3 linked regions of the Homo sapiens genome follow. The protein of the gene in region 3 interacts with the protein of the main gene of each other region in a pairwise test. Each region holds a gene or a part of one and is shown on either strand. Other genes may lie near its edges.

The links. The genes of interacting proteins can lie anywhere in the genome.
Region 1: the proteins of MAL2 (region 3) and RAB37 interact in binary tests that used the Homo sapiens proteins (3 or more experiments, as listed by UniProt).
Region 2: the proteins of MAL2 (region 3) and VARS2 interact in binary tests that used the Homo sapiens proteins (3 or more experiments, as listed by UniProt).

The regions. Positions count from the first base shown.
Region 1 is NC_000017.11:74,732,663-74,740,255, reverse strand, and holds the start of RAB37 (ras-related protein Rab-37), read right to left. Parts: upstream 3,001-7,593; 5' UTR 2,984-3,000; coding exon 2,891-2,983; intron 1-2,890. UniProt on the Homo sapiens protein: The small GTPases Rab are key regulators of intracellular membrane trafficking, from the formation of transport vesicles to their fusion with membranes.
Region 2 is NC_000006.12:30,917,238-30,924,237, reverse strand, and holds part of VARS2 (valine--tRNA ligase, mitochondrial isoform 2 precursor), read right to left. Parts: intron 6,544-7,000; coding exon 6,432-6,543; intron 5,412-6,431; coding exon 5,323-5,411; intron 4,481-5,322; coding exon 4,390-4,480; intron 4,150-4,389; coding exon 4,022-4,149; intron 3,906-4,021; coding exon 3,802-3,905; intron 3,571-3,801; coding exon 3,489-3,570; intron 3,174-3,488; coding exon 3,097-3,173; intron 3,009-3,096; coding exon 2,933-3,008; intron 2,650-2,932; coding exon 2,547-2,649; intron 2,314-2,546; coding exon 2,243-2,313; intron 2,123-2,242; coding exon 1,997-2,122; intron 1,789-1,996; coding exon 1,684-1,788; intron 1,533-1,683; coding exon 1,464-1,532; intron 1,341-1,463; coding exon 1,262-1,340; intron 1,135-1,261; coding exon 1,007-1,134; intron 886-1,006; coding exon 733-885; intron 1-732. UniProt on the Homo sapiens protein: Catalyzes the attachment of valine to tRNA(Val) in a two-step reaction: valine is first activated by ATP to form Val-AMP and then transferred to the acceptor end of tRNA(Val).
Region 3 is NC_000008.11:119,239,080-119,246,522, forward strand, and holds the end of MAL2 (protein MAL2), read left to right. Parts: intron 1-1,085; coding exon 1,086-1,241; intron 1,242-4,337; coding exon 4,338-4,409; 3' UTR 4,410-6,594; downstream 6,595-7,443. UniProt on the Homo sapiens protein: Member of the machinery of polarized transport. Required for the indirect transcytotic route at the step of the egress of the transcytosing cargo from perinuclear endosomes in order for it to travel to the apical surface via a raft-dependent pathway.

The sequences.
Region 1 (7,593 bases), on a different chromosome or scaffold from region 3:
TCATTTGCATACTCTATAATGAATATTGTTTGGGTTTTTTTTTTTGTGTCACAACATTTATTTGGAAGTTTCTTTCTTTCTTTCTTTCTTTTTTTTTTTGAGATGGAGTTTTGCTCTTGTTGCCCAGGCTGGAGTGCAATGGCGAGATCTTGGCTCACCACAACCTCCACCTCCCAGGTTTAAATGATTCTCCTGCCTCAGCCTCCTGAGTAGCTGGGATTATAGGCATGCACCACCTCGCCTGGCTAATTTTTTATTTTTAGTAGAGACGGGGTTTCTCCATGTTGGCCAGGCTGGTCTTGAACTCCCGACCTCAGGTGATCCGCCCGCCTCAGCCTCCCAAAGTGCTGGGATTACGGGCGTGAGCCACCGCGCCTGACTGGAAGTTTCTAATGACATTTTATGTTTATTAAAAGGTTGCATGAGGCCGGGTGCAGTAGCTCATGTGTGTAATCCTAGCATTTTGGGTGCCCAAGGTGGACGGATCACCTGAGGTTGGGAGTTTGAGACCAGCCTGACCAACAAGGTGAAACCCCATCTCTACTAAAAATACAAAAAACTAGCCAGGAGTGGTGGCACACGCCTGTAGTCCCAGTTACTTGGGAGGCGGAGACAGGAGAATAGCTTGAACCCAGGAGGTAGAGGTTGCAGTGAGCCGAGATTGCATCACTGAACTCCAGCCTCGGTGACAGAGCGACACTCTGTCTCAAAAAAAAAAAAAAAAAAAAAAGGTTGCATGAATTAGGGAAGGTTGAAATTTATACTGAAGTGGGGAGATGTGTAGTTGGAAGTTCTTTCAGCAGAAACCTCCCACATGGGACATGTGGCTGCAGATCGGCATCCCGGGGTTGCTGTGGGTAGTGCGGGCAGGAGTACCAAGGAGGTAACCTGTGGAGGGGGCGTGGCCCTCTCCTTTACTGTCTGGCTCTGCTCTGCTCATCTTCCCCAGGGACACGCAGGAATGGTGGAGAGGAGCACTTTGTCCCACTGTTCTCCAATCTTGGATAACAGGGGTCTAGATCCAATGCTGGAATTTCCCAGCTGCTGGTTAGGTGGCTTAATGGGTTAAGCAGGGACTAGGTTTGAATTATTTTTGAGGCTCTGAAATTGACAGTGGAGCCCAAAGGCATTCCTGTTGTGGGCATGGGGTACTGGCATTAGTTAACTCTGGTGGAGAGGCAGGGGTGGCTGAGCAGAAGGGGTATGAAGGATGGGTCTTGATTTGTAAATGGCCTACTGTGTGACTTTAGGAAGATTCCTTAACCTTTCTGTGGCATGGTTTCCATAGTGGGTAGAAGGAGGAGGGATAATGTCTTTGAGGTATTTCTAGAGTCTGTTAATGGCTAGGGCCCATCATCGTGGTGAATCACCTAAGACCCAGGGAAGAGTGGCCCAGGGTGGGAACTGTCTGCCTGTGGGCCACATCACCCCTAGTCTGGTCCAAGGAGCTCCTGCCAGGCTTTCTCAGAGGGTCCTGGACTCACTCCCCTGGGGCAGGCCCGGGGAGGCTGGGGACCAACTCTCCGGCCAATGCCGCTTGGCCAGGGAACAGATGAAGGGGTGGGGGATAGGAGCTTTCTGGAGCCTGCACTCCTCCCTGGCTCCTGGGTCCCAGCCCTGGAGCAGGAAGGAGGGAGGGAGGGCCAGTCTTTGTGTACTTTACAGATCACAGCTGCCTTGAGCAAACGATGCCAGCTACCCACCCAGCTCGGTGATTCCACCAAACACAAACAGCTGCCTAGCCTGGCCACCTCCTAGGCAAACAACCCAGCTGGTTTGCAGGGCAACAAGGTCAGGCAGTCCCCCTCAGCCTGGGGCCTGGCCAACAGCAGCTCCTCCTCTCCGAGGGTGCAGGGGCCCATTTCCTGCCACAAGCCCACACAGGACGCCTATCTCAACGGCTCTGGGCGGATGACTTGCAGGGTGGCTTCCCCCGAAACACTGGGGTGGAGGCTGAGGCTCCCAGCAAGGGTGAGCCCTGGTGTCGGGGAGGAAACCGAGGCCCAGAGAGAGGCAGGTCTCCTTCAAGGCCATGCAGCGGAATCCAGGACAGCCCTCACTCCATCCCCAACCCTGCAGAGGAAGAGTGGAAGCTCTAGGCTCCCTCAGCAGTTCTTTCAGTTTCTGGTACCCGCTCACTCCAAGGACACAGATGGAAGGCGACAGACCAGTCCACTGCTGTCCCTACCTGTTTCCATACAGGACACCCCTGTAGAGGGAGCAAGCCCCAGAGAGCAGCCCTGGAGCTCTCTCAAGTGCGGGATGCGAAAGACCAACCACTGAAATCTTTCTCAGGTTCGAAAAATTCCCAAGTGACCTGCAGGCCGGCTGGCAACATCCTTCTGGGAGGAGCGGCTTCCGACTGCAGGGAGGAAGGTGGGAGGCAGTGCCTCCAGCGGGTGGAATGGGAGGGGAGCAGCTGGGGGACATCAGGCCTTAAACCTGGATGTCAGATCTCAACTAAGAGCTTAGCTCGGAAAATGGCATTAACGCCAGTTCCTCTGCCAGCAGGGGACGTCCTCTCCGAGTCTCCGTTCGGTCCCCATCTCCCAGCCCTTCCCAGCCTGAGCCCCGAGAGTTGCGCGCTTAACCCTCACCAAGAAGCATGGGCTCCCGGGGGCTCATATTTGCCAGAGTGTGGCAGAAGAGAACTGAGTTGGGGCCGGCGGGGGGATCACTCAGTTTTTGCGATCTTCCGCGACCCGCCCCCACCAAGCCAGCAGAGACACCTAGAGCTTGGGACGGCCCCAGAGGCTGTGTCCTGACCCTCTCTCCCTCCCTCCTCTGGGAGACGCAGCTGCCTGGGGGAAGGGCTGAGTCCAACCCAGACGCAGCCAGGAAGGGGCTAGCGCCGAGGAGGGCGGGGGTCTCACGGAAGAGGCCCACCCACCTTGCCCGTGAGGTCGTAGCTCGGACTGCAGGGCGGGGAGCGCTCGGGGGCCTCGCCATCCCGGGTGGCAACGGCGCCTGGCGTGCCCGTCATGTCCCTGGACGAGAGGTGAGCAGTGCCGGCCCGCAGGCGAAGGAGAGCGCAGGAACGGCCCCACCCCCGCCCCGCCCACTCCTCCCCTCCCTCGACCGGGACCCCTCAGGCTCCTCCCTCCGTCCCGTCGCCCCCTCGACGACACCGGCTCGGACCTTGCTGTTCCCTGAGGGCACGCAGAGCCGCAGGGTCTGCGTGAAGGGGCGGGCAGCCTCCCTGAGCAACACCGGCTCGGCTCCGTGCGCTTCGGACATGAGCCACATCCAGCCCCGGGACCGGTCCCCTGTGGTCGCTTGCTTGCCCCTGGGGGAGCGGGCCGCGGGGACCCCGTCTGCTGCGGAAGAGTTCCCGTAGTCGCTGCGCACCGCGACAGCAGGCGGCGCCCGAGCCCCGGGCCGTGGGCTGTCCCCAGGTGGCGAGGCGGGGAGCTGGGGACCCCTGGGCTGCGCCTCCGCCGATGGCCCCGAGACACTTCCTCATCTGTTAAGTCACCCGGCCCGAGCTCATCTGAATATAGTTTTGTTTACCAACCCGTACTCGCCTTGCAGCACATGTACGCTGCGGTGTTTTGGGGCCTCTGCCTGGTGCGGGGACTTTGACCCTTTAGTATGGATCACCTCTCATTTCCCCCGGCCTGTTGGTTGTGCCCAGAATGTCCCACCAGGGGAGAGCTTTCGCAAGAGGGCTGCGCAGCACACATCTCCCAGTGGACCGCTCCTGAAGGCGGGGCCGGCCTTATTAACCCATGACACTCACCCTGGCCCCGAGGAGGAGCCAAATAAATTCATGAAGTCGTAGATCATTTTGAGCAGAGCTGCCAGGATATCCCAGGCACCCGGCAGCTCCTGGTGACAGAGAGTGGGGAGTGCAGCTGGGGTTGCCGGTAGCAGAGCTCAGGGGCTCTGTGGCCTGGGCCGACCTTTCAATTACCCCCATCTCCACATTCTATAAGCAGCTTCAAGTTACCAAGGAACAGGGCGGGTGCATTACAGCGGGACGGTTTGAGGGATGTGTAGGGAGGGGAGAGCTGGAGAGGGGTACCTGCACTTTTTTTTTTTTTCAGACAGAGTCTCACTCTGTCGCCCAGCCTGGAGTGCAGTGGTGCGATCTCGCCTCACTGCAACCTTTGCTTCCCGGGTTCAAGCTATACTCCCGCCTCAGTCTCCCGGAGTAGCTGGGATTACAGGTGCGCGACATCAGGCCCGGCTATTTTTTCTTTTTGTATTTTTAGTAGAGACGGGGTTTTGCCATGTTGGCCAAGCTGGTCTCAAATTCCTGACCTCAGGCGGTCCGCCCACCTCAGCCTCCCAAAGTGCTGGGATTACAGGCGTGAGCCACTGCGCCCGGCCTGCAATTCTTAACTTAGGTGTGGAGGTGAGGAGCAGGGGTAGACGTGGCTTATGGGCCACCATAGGCCTGTGGGGACTGACTTTGTACGCCAGCCTCCAGCCCTGTATTTTCTGACATCAGCTGGAGGTATTTTCTGTCAGCTGGGAGAAGCGCCCAGAGTGGGGACAGAGGTGATCTCCAGTAGAGTAAAGAGCTTGGGTTACCTCTTCTGGAGGTGAGCGTGCTATAACCTCAGCTGGGCATAGGGCGGGACTCAAACAGGGAGCCTCAGACTGGAGTGTGGAGGCTGCGCAGCACACTACAGAGGCGTGGTGTTGGTTGCTATTTGGATGCCAGAGGCTCTTGCTGCAAATAATGCCGAGGTTTGCTCAATGCCGTGGGCTCCCGGAGACGGAGTCTCACTCTGTCGCCCAGGCTGGAGTGCAGTGGCGGGATCTTGGCGCATTGCAGCCTCTGCCTCCCAGGTTCAAGCAATTCTCCTGCCTCAGCCTCTGGAGCAGCTGGGACTACAGGTGCACGCCACCACGCCTGGCTAATTTTTGTATTCTTAGTAGAGAACTTCACCATGTTGGACAGGCTGGTTTGGAACTGCTGACCTCAGGCGATACGCCTGCCTTGGCCTTCCAAATTGCTGGGATTACAAGCGTGAGCCACCGCACCTGGCCTGGTATGCGGTCTTTTCTCTCCCCTTCCCTCCCCTCCCCTCTCCTCCCTTCCTCCCTCCCTTCCTTCCTTCCTCCCTCCCTCCCTTCCTTCCTTCTTTCCTTCTTTCCTTTCTCTCTCTCTCTCTTCTTTCTTTCTTTGCCTGCCTGCCTTCCTTCCTTCCCCTCTCTTTTCCTTCCTTCTTTTCCCTTTCTTTCTCTTTCTTTCTTTCTTTCTTTCTTTCTTTCTTTCTTTCTTTCTTCCTTCCTTCCTTTCTTTTTCTTTCTTCCTTTCTTTTTCTTTCTTTCTTTTTCTTTCTTTCTTCTTTCTCTCTTTCTTTCTTTCTCTTTCTTTCTCTCCTTCCTTCCTTCCTTCCTCTCTCTCTTTCCCTTTCTTTCTCTCTGTCTCTCTTTCTTTCTTTCTTTTTGTTTCTTTCTTGAGGTGGAGCTCTGTCATCCAGGCTGGAGTAAGTGGCACGATCTTGGCTCACTGCAACCTCCGCCTCCCGGGCTGTTCAAGCCATTCTCCTCCTGCCTCAGCCTCCCAAGTAGCTGGGATAACAGGTGCCCATCATCATGCCTGGCTAATTTTTGTATTTTTGTAGAGACAGGGTTTCACCATGTTGGCCAGGCTGGTCTTGAACTCCTGACCTTAGGTGATCCGCCTGCCTTAGCCTCCCAAAGTATTGGGATTACAGGTGTGAACCACTGTGCCCAGCCAGGATGCGGGTTTTCATTGCAGGAGGGAAATGGTGGAGGAAGAATGAGAGAGGGGACAGGGCATGCCTCATGCTCACCTTCTACTGTAAACCATGCTGTTATGGGTTGAATTCTGTCCCCCAAAGACAGGTTGAGGTCTGAACCACCAGTACCTCAGATCATGCCCTTACTTGGAAATGTGGTCATTGCAGATATCACTCATTAAGATGAGGTTATACTAATATAGGGCAGGCCATTAATCCAGTATGACCGGTGTCATAAGAAGAAAGAGACACAGGGAAAAGACATCCAGGTGAAGACAGAGGCAAGATGGGAGGAGTGTGGCTGCAAGCCAAGGAATGCCAAGGACTCCTGGGAGCCACCAAGGCCATGGAAGAGGAAGGAATGACCCTTCTCTGGAGCCTTCAGAGGGAGCGTGGCCCTGCTGGTACTTTGAGTTCAGATTTCTAGCCTCCAGCTGTGGTTCACGTTGTTGGCTCCAAGGCCCTCTTTGTCCTATGGTGGGTTTGGAATACAGAAGGTTGAACATTAGCACGAATCATCCAGAAGGAGCAGTGGCCTGAAGCACTTCCCTGCTGCGTTGCTGCACTAGTCTGGATGGAGGAATCTGACCTAGGGAAGAAGTCTTTGAACATGGGGAGAGGGGCTGCAGGCCTGCTGGGTCTGTGGTATGTGGGTAATGTCATACTTGGAGGGTGCGTACACTGTCCCCAGGGCCACTGTAATGTCCTGTAGGGTGTTCAAGGGCAGCCTCGGGTGAGTCAGAAGTGGGTTAGGGTCTAAGACATTCAGAACAGGGAACAGGGGCTGTGCAGAATAGGGACTCACTAAGGGATCCGTGTGGTCTCTGGGGAGGAAACCTGGGCCTCCTAACGTTCACTCTGAGGCTGTGTATGCGCTGTGGTAGCCTGTGTCTCTCCCCAGACACACACCACAGACACTCACACGTGTGCACCCACCCACAACACACCACAGACACACACACCTCACCACACACACACACCTCAGACCATACACACCTCACCCCTCAAATCACACCACACACCTCACCACACACACCTCAAATCACACCACACACCTCACACCACACACATCCCTCAAATCACACACACCTCACATCACACACATACACTCTCAAATCACACCACAAATATACACACACACCCTACATCATACCACACACATCTGCCTCACATCATACCATAAATACACATGCCTCACACCCTACATTATACCACAAACACACACTTCATAACATGTCCCACACACAACTTTGTATTATGCCACAAATGTGCACCTCATACTATAAACAAACACACCTACCATCATACCACATACATACACATCTTACATGACCCTCAAACACACATACCTCATTTCACTCCAAACACACACTCCTGTCACCACAGTGCAGCTCCAGGCACAGTTTATTTCACACCATCAACACCTGTGCCACATCACTGTGCAAACACCTGCCTCTCCAATGGACCCCATGCCTCACACCATCACCAAATGTGTATATCACCCTATAAATGACCCCCAACACCTCTTATTGCCTCCAGATCTGAGACGCACACCCCCACAATACCCCCAAATAGACACCCCTACCCTCCTGATCACAGATCACACTGTCATTGTCATGCAGCCCTGCTGATAGTGGAGGTACCAAGTGTCAGTGAGACAGACCCTCATGCGTGTTGAAAGATGGGGGGGCTCTTGTGTACACCTGAAACCACACACACACACCTCAAATCACGCCACACACACCTCACACCACACACACCTCACCCCTCAAATCACACCACACACCTCATCACACACACCTCAAATCACACCACACACGTCACACCACACACCCCTCAAATCACACCATACACATCTCACGCCACATACACACAC
Region 2 (7,000 bases), on a different chromosome or scaffold from region 3:
AGCACTTAGCACTTCTGATATGATCCACAGTCCCAGGACACACTCAGCACAAAGAAGGGGACTCCAGGACAGCAATTCTCTGCAGTACACAGGGACAGGATTTCCAGGGAAACATGTAGTTTAGGGAAAAAAATCATTGAGTTTTTTGCTTATCAACAGGGGACAGAGGTTTTTAAAAGGCTGAGCTAGGGCAGTGGTCCACAGCCAGCAGCAGCAGCACCACTTGGGACAAGAAATGAATATTCATTACACCACCCACCCCCACCCCAACCTGCTAAAGGAGCCACTCTGGGGTGGCAGTGGAGCGGGGGGGATCCACCGTCAACAAGCCCTCCAGGTGCTTTGGACGTAGGACAGCGTGAGAACCCCTGGTCTAAAGACCGCTGCTAGTCCCTCCCAGGCCTCTCTCAGCACGCAGCCTGCCCATGGGCCAAACTCAGCAACTACAGGGACTGAAAAAATTCCCCTCTGCCTTCTGACACCGACTTGTCAGACATTTCTAGAAGTCTCCCTCCTCCTCCTCTCCCCAGGTGACAGGCAGGCAACAGTGCCTGGGCTGCACTGCCAAAACCAGTCCCAGGAAGAGGGGAACTGAGACTCCCTCGTCTCCTCTCCTCTCCTAACTGAGGGGACAATTGGGAACTTATTAACTCCAGAGCTCTCTGCCTTGGAAATTTCCAGAGGAATTAGAAGCAGGCATGGGAATACCAAGCCTCCCCCAGCCTCACTCACCAGGTAGACGTCACAGAGGTTGTGAAGCCAGAAGTGGTGCAGGGCATGAGTGACGAGCGAGAGCTCTCGGGTGAGGAAGCCCCGCTCACACTCCTGGGCAGCCAGGGCAAGGCGGCTCAGGATCCAGGCATCCATCGGGGAGGAGGGAGACAGCTGCAGGCAGAGGGGGCAGGATGGCCTGACTCCCCCTCCCCTGCCTCCTTTCCTTCCAGATGCCACCTTGGCCCTCTGACACCTGACTACCCTACTCCCAAGCACCTCTGTTTTCTCTTACCTCCTCAGCAGGCTGTGGCACAAATTTCTCCCCTAAAGCATTGAGGATAAAGCGAAGAGCATTCCAGATCTTGTTGCAGAAATGTCGGCAGCTCTGGACCTCAGAGACTGACAGGTGCAAGTCGCCCGCTGGAAGGGAAGAATCGAGGTAGTCTGCATGTAGGTGGCAGCAGCACCAGAAGTCCTGCCCCTGCCCTGCCCCTGCACAGGTGCCCGCTGCCCTCTGCTCACCCCGACACCCCTCGCCCAGGCTTACCCTGAACTCCATGGGAGCAGAGTGTGAATCTCAGGGCATCTGTCCCACACTCAGGGATCCCGTGAGGAAAGTCCTTTTTCTGCAACCAGAGGAAGAAGAAGGGTGGCAGATGCCTTTGTGGCTGCAGGGCCAGGACCTGGGTTGCAGAGGAAGCCAGAGGTGGTGAGCTAGAGCTGGTGGGGGGCAGGCAGCGATGACTCACCTGTGCTGCAGCCACAATGGCCAGCTCTGCAGGGTCCAAATTTCCGCTTCTCAGCTTTTCCTGCAGCACCTGGGGATGGAAGGGGGCAATTCACGACCCAGGTCGAAGGCCCTGCCTCTATAAGGGTCACACCTGCTGGCCTCACTCCTCCCTCAGCCTGCCTTCCTCTCTCCTGCAAACCCTGCAAACCTTGTCCCTCTAGTGGGTGCTTCGTCCTCACCTGCATCTCCACCCCACTGATGATGTCTCTTGGGTCCAGCACATTCCCCAGGGACTTGCTCATCTTCCGGCCCTGCCTGTCCCGAACCATGGGATGAAGAAGCACCTGGGGGCAGGGAGGGGTCAACAGAGGGGGGTTTCCTTGGAGGTGCCTTGGGATCTCTGGCCTCCATACTTTTGGGGGTAGGGTAGGAAGTGAATTAGGAAAAAGGAATCAGCAACGTGGAAAGGACCACATTAGGGGTTAGAAGGGAGGACAAGGTTTGGGGAACACTGGAGTCACAGAAAGCGGCAGGGCACTGAAGGGCTCTTACCTTGCTGAAGGGCAGCTGCCCTGTGAGCTGGGTCCCCAACATGACCATGCGGCCCACCCAGAACAGCAGAAGGTCGCTGCCCGTTTCCAAAAGTGACAGGGGGTAGAAACGAGCAAGGTCTGGGGTCTAGGGGGAAGAGGAGCAGTAAGAGGCCCAGGCCCCAGGCCCCCCTCAAGCCTCTGTGGGGGCCCAGCCATCCCTTCCTTATCGTTTCCCCTTCACTTTCGCCCTCTCAACCCACCTCACCTCTTGGGGCCAGCCCAGGGCAGAAAAGGGGAACAGGGCAGAAGAAAACCATGTGTCTAGGACATCAGGATCTGGGAAACAGAAAAAGAATGGGGACAGTTGGAACCTTGGCTTCTAGGACCTCAGACCACTGCTGCCACCATTCTAGGCCAACCCCCACCCCCAGAGACCAGGGCTGTCCCCTTTGGCTCCATTCCCAACTTTCCTGACCCTACCTTCTGTATCTTGGGATCTGTTCCCCTCAAAGGCCCAGATGCCCAGGCCCCCGCTCCCCTGTACATCCCTCCCCAGCTCAGGCACTCACCCCTCTCCAGGGTCAGCTCTGCCCCTGGCCTCCCTGTCAGTTCCGCTGCTACCTCTCTGGCCTCAGCCTCTGACCGCCCAACCACCCAACAGTCCTCTTCTCCCTGCAAAAGTAGGAAGGGGTTGGGGAGAGTGAGGAAGAACAGCTGACAGGTGTAAATGTCACTTGGTTTTCACGTCCTCATGTGGTCTTAGAGTGGCCAGGTTCCCCCAGGGGTGAGATAAAGAAATGCCACTTCAGGGAGCCTTGATCGCGCAGAAGGTTACATGACTATGAGCATGAAGCACATGACCAGGCAGGAGCGGGACTTGGCCCTGCGGAGCTCTGACTCCTGGGCTAGGTGCTCTGTGCCACACTCGGCCCTCCGGGTGCTTCTTCCTACCCACCTGCGCATGGTCCTCTACAACCAGGTAGGCTGGAATCTGATGGCCCCACCACAGCTGCCGGGAGACACACCAGTCCCTGCCGGGAGGACATTCGTGAAGTCTTAGAATAACCAGTCAGTCCCCCCTCCCCATCTCCACAAGAGCTCCCCTTACCCTACCCTTACCCAATATGGGAAAACCAGTGCTGCCAGTTCTTCTGGTGGAAGGAGGGACTGAGCTCCAGGGCCCCCGACTCCACAGCCTGGAGAGAAAGGGGACTTTAGACAATGTTGCCCTTCCTGCACGGCCGCACCTCCACAGATAGGACGAGTGGCCTCTGAGGTCATTTTAAAACTCAGAAAGGACCTCCCAAGCCTCTTGCCAAGATTCTGGGCTTGAGTAAGGATATGAGCCAGCCCTTGCTGGGCCGCCCAGCCTCCATCCCACACATCCTCTCAGTTACCACAGCTGGAGAGGTCTTCAGGGCAGGAGGTCTCCTGCTTCCCATTTCTTCATTCCAATTCTCAGGGAGCTCCCCCAACCCCTGGCCCCAGTCCTTCCTACACTGCAGCCTCACCTTGGCAGCTCGGGCCCCCATTTCCTGGCAGCGGACAAACCACTGGTTCTTCAGCAGGTATTCTATCACATCCCCAGAACGGCTGAAAGAGAGACAGGGTGAGTCCACTGCTCTTCCGGCCCTGTGACTTCTCCCAGGGGCACAAGACCCCATGCCATGCCAGGCCCTTGGTACTGAGGATACAATAGCGAATAAAACCGACACGGAGCTCGTATTCTAACGGAGGGGTGCAGAGCCCATCCTATTGTCACCCTTAAGCTCCATACATTCCCTTTTGGGGTAGCCCTTAGTAAAGGAGTTAAAATGAGGTTACCTGCAGATGGGCAGTACCATGGGGTGGTTCTGGAGGCCCCGGAACAGGCCCCATTCACTCAGCACAGACATTATCTTTTCCCGGGCCACAAACCGGTGAAGACCCTGGAGAAAAAGCGGCAAGAGTAAAGACTGAAGGCCTCTAGAGAAATAAGAAACTAGGAGGAGGATTAGGGGGACAGAGAGCCCCCAAAGGATGGGGTAACATAGGGTGGTACCACCTGCAGCCAGTCCCCGCAGAGGGAGGTCATGGTCCCATCCTCCGCAATGACATTCAAGGGGCTCAAGCCATGTCGGGCCCCCATCTCAGCATCGGCAGGACTGTGAGCTGGAGTCACCTTCACTGCCCCTTGGGGAGCACAGCCATGGTGAGTACTGAACCTGACCTTGGCTTTTGCTTTTCCAGATGTATCATCATCACCTGCACCGCCCCAGCCCCTGCGACTTTCTCTGTCTGTGCCTCCCTCCCATTCCCCACTCAGACCACCCTATATGAGGATCTCCCACTCCCACCTTCCTCTTCCTCCTGGTTCCCTCCCCTCTCCTCCAGGACCCCCAACTTTCTCTCCCTCCCCTGACTTCCACTCACCCGTGCCCACATGTGGCTGAACAGCATAGTCTGTGATGAGGGGAAGAGGCTGCCCCATCAAGGGGTGACGAAGCTGTCGCCCGTGTAGATGCTGAAGGGAAGGGAGAGGGATCAAGGACAGGCACCTGTGAGGGTTGGAAGGGTCTGGGCTGGGGCGTGAGAACCCCAGGAATAAGAAGGTAGAAAGTGGAAGGTAGCAAGCTAGAGCAAGGTCAGCAAACTCTTAAGGGGCCAGAATGTAGATATTTTAGGCTTTTGGGCCTAGAGACAAATTCATTCTCAGCACAATTACTCTATTATGCCACTGCAGCAGAGCTGGAGAGGGTATATAATAGCAGCCATAGATAATATAAAGGCTGCAAGCAGCCAGGCGCGGCGGCTCACGCCTGTAATCCCAGCACTTTGGGAGGCCGAGGTGGGCAGATCACGAGGTCAGGAGATCGAGACTATCCTGGCTAACACAGTGACACTCCGTCTCTACTAAATAACATTACTTAAAAATTACATTACTTAAAAAAAATTAATTACTAATTTTTGTAAAAATACAAAAAATTAGCTGGGTGTGGTGGCACGTGCCGGGCATGGTGCCACGCTCCCAGCTACTCAGGAGGCTGAGGCAGGAGAATTGCTTGAACCCAGGAGGTGGAGGTTGCAGTGAGCCAAGATCACACCACTGCCCTCCAGCCTTGGTGACAGAGCGAGACTCTGTCTCAAAAAAAAAGGCCGCAAGCTGGATTAGGACCATGGGCCAGTTTGTCAACCCCTGAGCTACAGAAAAACTATAAGAGGAGGAGGGAGTCCAATCAGAACCACTGAGAGAAGTCTCAGGAAAAGGAAGTAGAAGCAAGAGAGAAAGAGCCACCATTTAAAACCCAAGAGAAGAGAAGGCCATTGGCGGGGCGGGCCAGAGTGCAGGAGCGCACTGGGTATTACTGTGTATCGCGAGTCGTCTGGATGAACGGCCACAGCCACATCTCCAGGCAGCGTCTCTGGCCTTGTGGTTCCTACCACAACCTCTGCATCTGAAGATAAACATTTAAACACTTACAGCTGGTCATCATCCTCACCTCTCACTGCCAACATAGCTAAAGGCAGTAGAACTGGAAAGGGGAAGGGGCAGGGAGTAGTCAAGGTGGAAGAGGCCCCCAGGAGTGACTAGAAAAAAGTAGGAGCAGTGTTTATAGGAACCCAGGGTTTCCCATAAGCTGATGACCAGAGGTCTGAGAGGGTCTCTGGTGCTAAAGAATTCCCTGATAATTTGCATGGAAGAAATGGGGGCAGCATTAATTAAAGCAACTATAATAGAATTCTTGCTGGGTGCCCAGAGGACACTGGGGATTCTCAGTGTCCTAATCACAAATGCTGTACATTCCTCAGGGGGAGCACCAGCTCCTACAAGAAGCTTCCACTGACAATTCCAGCTCATCTGTCTTCCCTTTCTCTGAGCTCTTCAGAACATTTACCGTAAAAACCACACCTTAGAGGCCAGGTGCAGTGGCTCACGCCCGTAATCCCAGCACTTTGGGAGGCCAAGGCGGGCAGATCACGAGGTCAGGAGTTCGAGACCAACCTGACCAACATGGTGAAACCCCGTCTCTACTAAAAATACAAAAATTAGCCAGGCCTGGTGGCACGCGCCTGTAATCCCAGCTACTCAGGAGGCTGAGACAGGAGAATCGCTTGAACCTGGGAAGCAGAGGTTGCAGGAGCCGAGATCGTGCCATTGCACTGCAGCCTGGGTGACAGAGTGAGACTCTGTCTCAAAACAAACAAACAAACAAACAAAACAAAACATACCTTAGAACTGATCTCTTTCCTGGGTAGCGCACTCCTGAAGAATCACACCACACTCTCAAAGGGCAGTGACCACATGCACTTTTTGTACATCCCCCAGAAGACCCTGGGTAAGTGCCCACGCTGAGGTGAACACTACCAAGGTACATGTGAGAGATGGACTGATGGGTTCCTAGCAGCCCAACATGGGCTTCAGAAAACAGGAAAAATGGAGGTAAACGGGTGACCCTGCAGAGTACTATGCTCACCAGGCTCTCCATCCACGGGGAAGGCAACAGAAAATAGGAGGCCAAAAGACACGGGGGTGGGGCAGCCAGGCAGTCGAAGCTGTGTGTGGCCAGGCAGGGGCCGGTTCTCCACCTGGAGGCACCGAGAAAGCTGGGTCAGAGGGCAGCCTTTCTGCAAGGCTCATGCCCAGGCTTCACTCTGCCACTCATCCATCTGCCCAGCCTCCCTGCAATCCATCTAAAAGCCATTTGGAGGATTCGGGAGCTACCTCCCTCTGCCCTCACCCAATGCTCGTGCAGTCACACTTCTAATAAATATTCACTGAGCACTTAAGCCATGGCCAGGTATCTTGCCAAGCACCTATGTGAATTCTCATTTAATTTTTACAACACCCCCACGATGCAAGCATTCCATCATCTCTAATTTACAGACTGAGGAAGCTGAGGCTTAAAGAGACTAAACGGCCTGCCAAAAGCCACACAGCTGTAACAGGCAGGCATCAGATTTGAATCCAGGCACCCTGGCTCCAGAGTCTGAGCTCTTAATCATTGACCACTCTGCCTCAGAGCTCTCACAAACCTGCTTCCCT
Region 3 (7,443 bases):
GAAAAAAAAACAACCCCATCAAAAAGTGGGTGAAGGATATGAACAGACACTTCTCAAAAGAAGACATTTATGCAGCCAAAAAACACATGAAAAAATGCTCACCATCACTGACCATCAGAGAAATGCAAATCAAAACCACAATGAGATATCATCTCATACCAGTTAGAATGGCAATCATTAAAAAGTCAGGAAACAACAGGTGCTGGAGAGGATGTGGAGAAATAGGAACACCTTTACACTGTTGGTGGGACTGTAAACTAGTTCAACCATTGTGGAAGTCAGTGTGGCGATTCCTCAGGGATCTAGAACTAGAAATACCATTTGACCCAGCCATCCCATTACTGGGTCCCAAAGGACTACAGATCATGCTGCTATAAAGACACATGCACATGTATGTTTATTGCGGCATTATTCACAGTAGCAAAGACTTGGAACCAACCCAAATGTCCAACAATGATAGACTGGATTAAGAAAATGTGGCACATATACACCATGGAATACTATGCAGCCATAAAAAATGATGAGTTCATGGCCTTTGTAGGGACATGGATGAAATTGGAAATCATCATTCTCAGTAAACTATCGCAAGAACAAAAAACCAAACACCACATATTCTCACTCATAGGTGGGAATTGAACAATGAGAACACATGGACACAGGAAGGGGAACATCACACTCTGGGGACTGTTGTGGGGAGGGATAGCATTAGGAGATATACCTAATGCTAAATGATGAGTTAATGAGTGCAGCACACTAGCATGGCACATGTATACATATGTAACTAACCTGCACATTGTGCACATGTACCCTAAAACTTAAAGTATAATAATAAAAAAATAAAATTACATATTATAAAATTCAGTATATGGAAAGGTTTACCAATGTGCCAATTAAGATGGGTCAGTTGATTTTCGCTTGGGTTCTGATAGTCTAACATTTCTAAAGCAGCTAAGCTTAACAGTGAATATAGTTAAGATTGTTTAATTAAATGTTTTGATCTTGCTAAACCTAAACTTCATTATTTAAAATAAGGAACAGAAAAATATTTTTTTTTAATTGCAGATGTCTTTTCTCTCCTCTTTTAGGATTTTGCCTACCATTTTACAGTATTTGTCTTCTATTTTGGAGCCTTTTTATTGGAAGCAGCAGCCACATCCCTGCATGATTTGCATTGCAATACAACCATAACCGGGCAGCCACTCCTGAGTGATAACCAGTATAACATAAACGTAGCAGCCTCAGTAAGTATTCATATTCAATGAGTACCATTCACCAGCACTTCCGCTCCACTGTCAAGGCCTCCAAGAAACTCCTCAGGCAACAATAGTTTTCTTCAATGCTAGCCATTGGCATTAAATATGTAATAGCTATTTATCTGTACAATAACCTTGTAAGCAAAGTGCCATGATCACCCCCAGTGTTGTGGATGATTAAACTGTAGCACGAAGAGGTTGATGTTCATGTAAGATCATAGCAAGCCAGTAGGACTGCTTGGCTTTGCACAGCAGTGTCTACTTTGCAAAAAGAGTTGTGTTTTTTGCTTCTGATAACTTTCAGAGATGGTAAAGGAGATTTCCAGTTTTGTTCTTTAGTATTCAATAGCTGCTTGCAATTTATTTCTATTGAATGAATAGTTACTGTGGGCCTACCATTTATCAAGTAATTTTGCTGGGTGTTGAGGATGGGGTGAATAAGTTGCAGTTCCTGCCATTAAGGAAAGTGCAGGTGAGAAAGGGAGGCAAATATGCCAGCCATTGCAGTAGATGATAGGCAGATGAAATATATTCCTTGGGGTATTTATTAAATTTTTTAAATCATCTTTAATTCGTATACTGGAGTGAATTTGTCATTTTGTGTAGATAATTTGAGGAAATAATATATTATTTTTGTTGTTAGAGATCATTGTTAAGATGTCAGAAGTCCAAATTAGTTTCTGAAATATTGTGATATTTAATATAAGTATATGGCAAGTTAGTGACCCTAATGTTTTATTATGTTCCCCAGGTAGCCTATAAATAACCCAGTACTCATATAGTCATTGAAATCTGTCTGGAGCAGCACTGTCTAGTAGAACTTTCTATAATGACAGGAATATTTCATGTAAGTGCTGTCCAAAATGGTGGCCACTGGCTTCATGTGGCTATTGAGCAGTTGAAAATTAACTAGGCCAAGGAATCATAGCTCATGCCTGTAATCCCAGCACATTGGTAGGCCGAGGTGGGAGGACTGCTTGAGGCCAAGAGTTTGAGACCAGCCTGGTCAACATAGCAAAACCTTGTCTCTGAAAAAGGAAAAAAAACAGAATAAAGAATTGGCCAGGCCTGGTGGCTTGTGCCTGTAGTGCTACCTACTCAGGAGGCGGAGGTTGCAGTGAGCAGAGCAGTCTGAGCGACAGACCAAGACTCTGGTCGGGGGAGAGAAAGATAACTAGTATGACTAAGGAACTTGAATTTTTAGTGTTATTTAATTTTAATAATCACATGTGCCTAGTGGCTATCATGTTAGATAATACATGTCTAGAGTGAGTTTTGAGGGGTACAAGACAAATGATTTCAAGACCTATTGTAAGTTTCCCAAGTCTCTGGTAGGATTTGTCAAAATTTATTGAGTGCCTGCAATGAATTAGGCTGAAGGTGGGATTACAACAAAAAGGAGTCATGGTTTTAGCTTTGAAAGGTTTATAGTGTAGATTCATGACTTTAACACTTGCTTATAAAAGAAATAAAGGTTTTATTTAATCAATTCTTACCTAAAACCCCAATAAATCTAGAAGATAAAAGTGTAAGTGCTCTAGTTGAAGTGGAGGAAGAGGGCCTTGAATGATGCTCATTCTCTTTTCATAAAGCTGCCTCTACCCACCCATATCATCCCTGAGGATGATAGAATCCTTGTGATCCACATTAGAAAACCCTTGGTTTTAACAGCTTTACAAAGCAAAGTTCAGGGACTTTCCTATGCTATTAGTCATCAATTCCCATTGTATTTGCCTTTATGTGTTTCTTACTTCCAGTCCCTTCATTTTAACGGTGCAGGCTAGATTCTTGTATCTTGGATCATTGAAGTAGCCCCAAATCTATTGACAGTCACCCTAGAACCTACTTTCACAAGAATAGTAGCTGCTGAAATACGTGATGGTTGTCTGAGGTCTTTAATTTGTCACCTTTGTCCTAAGGGCCTAGTTTTCCGTGTTCTCCATAATGTAGTTCTGTTCTGGCTGCTTCTCTTTTGTGACTTTGTCCCTGTTGTCCTTCCCTTTCTAAGTGAAGCTGTCTCAGTAAACCTCTACATGCTTCAAGTTCAACATTACATCCCATTTCATCCATATGCTCACTCCAGTCTAAGTAAATCTCTAGTTTGAGTTTTATTGTAACTAAAATGTATTAGCCATCCATTTGGGAAATTAGAGAGGAAAATTCCTTTTCCCTAATAATAGGTATCAAATAATAGGTATCAAAAAATAGGTATCAAAAGCTATTGCTGTCATTCAGAAAACAATGTCTAGATTAGAAATGTATCAGAGAAAAAATCAGCAGAAGAAGGGTGGAAAGAAAAGCAGAATAGTAAACTGTGAAAATGGTCTATAGGTGAATCTGGTATTCCTTCCCAGAACTGGTTTCCTGGTTAAGAATCCCTGTGCTAAACCCACAACATTTATCAAACATTTATCATGTTGAACTGCTTTTGCTTTGTCTTTTAGTCTTCTATGGATCATAAGCCCCAAAAGGGTGAGGACATTATCTACTGTTTGTTTATATGTACCAAGTATAGTGATATACACACAGTTGGTGCTGAAGAAATTCTCATTAATTCCAAGTAGAGTGCAGATTTGTACACAGGACTGTCTCCCATACAAGAGCAAGCCAACCTGATAATTCATTTCCACTTGTCTTAGTTGAGTTTTAAAGTTACCTTCCATCATCATAGAAATTATTTGATGCATCCTCAGGTTCTGATAGTTGCTGGCTTCCTTGGCTGTGAAGCCACTACATGAACAGAACTTCATGCTGAATTTTTAAATACAGTGCTTAGGGATTCACAAATACTTAAGTGAGCCCAGAATGTGAACAGATTGAACAAATGTTCAGTGTAAAGTTGTCCACAAATGAGAAAATTATTAGGAGCTAAAATGTTTAAAGGAAGGGGGGAGGGTAATTGTATGAGGGAATAAAACAGTTGTACAAATCATCAAAAAAAAAAAAACAATGTAAAATATTTTTGTAAGTGTCGAAGTATCTTTAGGTAGATTGTTGGTCAAACTTCATATGGTTGTTCTTTAGGACACTGTTTATAAGTCGGTGTTGTAAATCTGATGTGAATTTTTGTTTCTTTTTTCTTAGATTTTTGCCTTTATGACGACAGCTTGTTATGGTTGCAGTTTGGGTCTGGCTTTACGAAGATGGCGACCGTAACACTCCTTAGAAACTGGCAGTCGTATGTTAGTTTCACTTGTCTACTTTATATGTCTGATCAATTTGGATACCATTTTGTCCAGATGCAAAAACATTCCAAAAGTAATGTGTTTAGTAGAGAGAGACTCTAAGCTCAAGTTCTGGTTTATTTCATGGATGGAATGTTAATTTTATTATGATATTAAAGAAATGGCCTTTTATTTTACATCTCTCCCCTTTTTCCCTTTCCCCCTTTATTTTCCTCCTTTTCTTTCTGAAAGTTTCCTTTTATGTCCATAAAATACAAATATATTGTTCATAAAAAATTAGTATCCCTTTTGTTTGGTTGCTGAGTCACCTGAACCTTAATTTTAATTGGTAATTACAGCCCCTAAAAAAAACACATTTCAAATAGGCTTCCCACTAAACTCTATATTTTAGTGTAAACCAGGAATTGGCACACTTTTTTTAGAATGGGCCAGATGGTAAATATTTATGCTTCACGGTCCATACAGTCTCTGTCACAACTATTCAGTTCTGCTAGTATAGCGTGAAAGCAGCTATACACAATACAGAAATGAATGAGTGTGGTTATGTTCTAATAAAACTTATTTATAAAAACAAGGGGAGGCTGGGTTTAGCCTGTGGGCCATAGTTTGTCAACCACTGGTGTAAAACCTTAGTTATATATGATCTGCATTTTCTTGAACTGATCATTGAAAACTTATAAACCTAACAGAAAAGCCACATAATATTTAGTGTCATTATGCAATAATCACATTGCCTTTGTGTTAATAGTCAAATACTTACCTTTGGAGAATACTTACCTTTGGAGGAATGTATAAAATTTCTCAGGCAGAGTCCTGGATATAGGAAAAAGTAATTTATGAAGTAAACTTCAGTTGCTTAATCAAACTAATGATAGTCTAACAACTGAGCAAGATCCTCATCTGAGAGTGCTTAAAATGGGATCCCCAGAGACCATTAACCAATACTGGAACTGGTATCTAGCTACTGATGTCTTACTTTGAGTTTATTTATGCTTCAGAATACAGTTGTTTGCCCTGTGCATGAATATACCCATATTTGTGTGTGGATATGTGAAGCTTTTCCAAATAGAGCTCTCAGAAGAATTAAGTTTTTACTTCTAATTATTTTGCATTACTTTGAGTTAAATTTGAATAGAGTATTAAATATAAAGTTGTAGATTCTTATGTGTTTTTGTATTAGCCCAGACATCTGTAATGTTTTTGCACTGGTGACAGACAAAATCTGTTTTAAAATCATATCCAGCACAAAAACTATTTCTGGCTGAATAGCACAGAAAAGTATTTTAACCTACCTGTAGAGATCCTCGTCATGGAAAGGTGCCAAACTGTTTTGAATGGAAGGACAAGTAAGAGTGAGGCCACAGTTCCCACCACACGAGGGCTTTTGTATTGTTCTACTTTTTCAGCCCTTTACTTTCTGGCTGAAGCATCCCCTTGGAGTGCCATGTATAAGTTGGGCTATTAGAGTTCATGGAACATAGAACAACCATGAATGAGTGGCATGATCCGTGCTTAATGATCAAGTGTTACTTATCTAATAATCCTCTAGAAAGAACCCTGTTAGATCTTGGTTTGTGATAAAAATATAAAGACAGAAGACATGAGGAAAAACAAAAGGTTTGAGGAAATCAGGCATATGACTTTATACTTAACATCAGATCTTTTCTATAATATCCTACTACTTTGGTTTTCCTAGCTCCATACCACACACCTAAACCTGTATTATGAATTACATATTACAAAGTCATAAATGTGCCATATGGATATACAGTACATTCTAGTTGGAATCGTTTACTCTGCTAGAATTTAGGTGTGAGATTTTTTGTTTCCCAGGTATAGCAGGCTTATGTTTGGTGGCATTAAATTGGTTTCTTTAAAATGCTTTGGTGGCACTTTTGTAAACAGATTGCTTCTAGATTGTTACAAACCAAGCCTAAGACACATCTGTGAATACTTAGATTTGTAGCTTAATCACATTCTAGACTTGTGAGTTGAATGACAAAGCAGTTGAACAAAAATTATGGCATTTAAGAATTTAACATGTCTTAGCTGTAAAAATGAGAAAGTGTTGGTTGGTTTTAAAATCTGGTAACTCCATGATGAAAAGAAATTTATTTTATACGTGTTATGTCTCTAATAAAGTATTCATTTGATAATCTTTGTGGTCATCTTTTACACCATTCACTTTGAAATTCAGTTAAAGGTTTGATATAAATTTGGCAGAGCTTATAGAATTATAATGTATAAAAAGTTCTGTTTTAAACATTTCTGTGTAAAAGTCTCTCAGGAATTGTCAGTAAGTCTTTTTTCTTTGATGAAGGTGAAAGAGGCAAGTCTTTGGAAGTAACGTTGCAAAGGAAGTTTAAATGAGAATTCTGTTTTGCCGAGTGTGATGACTTATGCCAGTATTCCCAATACTTTGGGAAGCCGAGGCAGAAGGATCACTTGACACTAGGAATTCAGGACCAACCTGGGCAATATAGCAAGACCTCATCTCTACAAAATAATTTAAAAATTAGCTGGGTGCATGTGGCACGTGCCTCTAGTCCCAGCTACTTGGGAAACTGAGGTGGGAGGATTGCTTTAGCCCAGGATGTTGAGGCTCCAACCTGGGTGACAGAGTGAGACCCTGTCTCACACACACACAAAAAAAACCACTATCCATGCTAAAAAGAATTGTTTTATTTAAAAAGCATTCATTTATACCATGTTTTATATGTTTCAGGCATTTTTTTCACATATTCATTTATTTCTCATCATAACAACCCTATGAGGTGTATACTCTTATCCCATTTTAAAGGCTTGGAGACTAAAAAACCTTAAGAAACACCCAGTGCTGCCTGCCTAGCAGGTGAGAAAGCTGGGACTTAAACCCCAACAGTCTGACTCCGAAGTGCAGACTCTTAATTTCTGTTTGCCTCAGTTCACCCAGATTTTATATCTATATCCAAAAATGTGATCTTTTCTTCACCCAGAGAAGTTTTAGCAGAATGTTTAACATCATA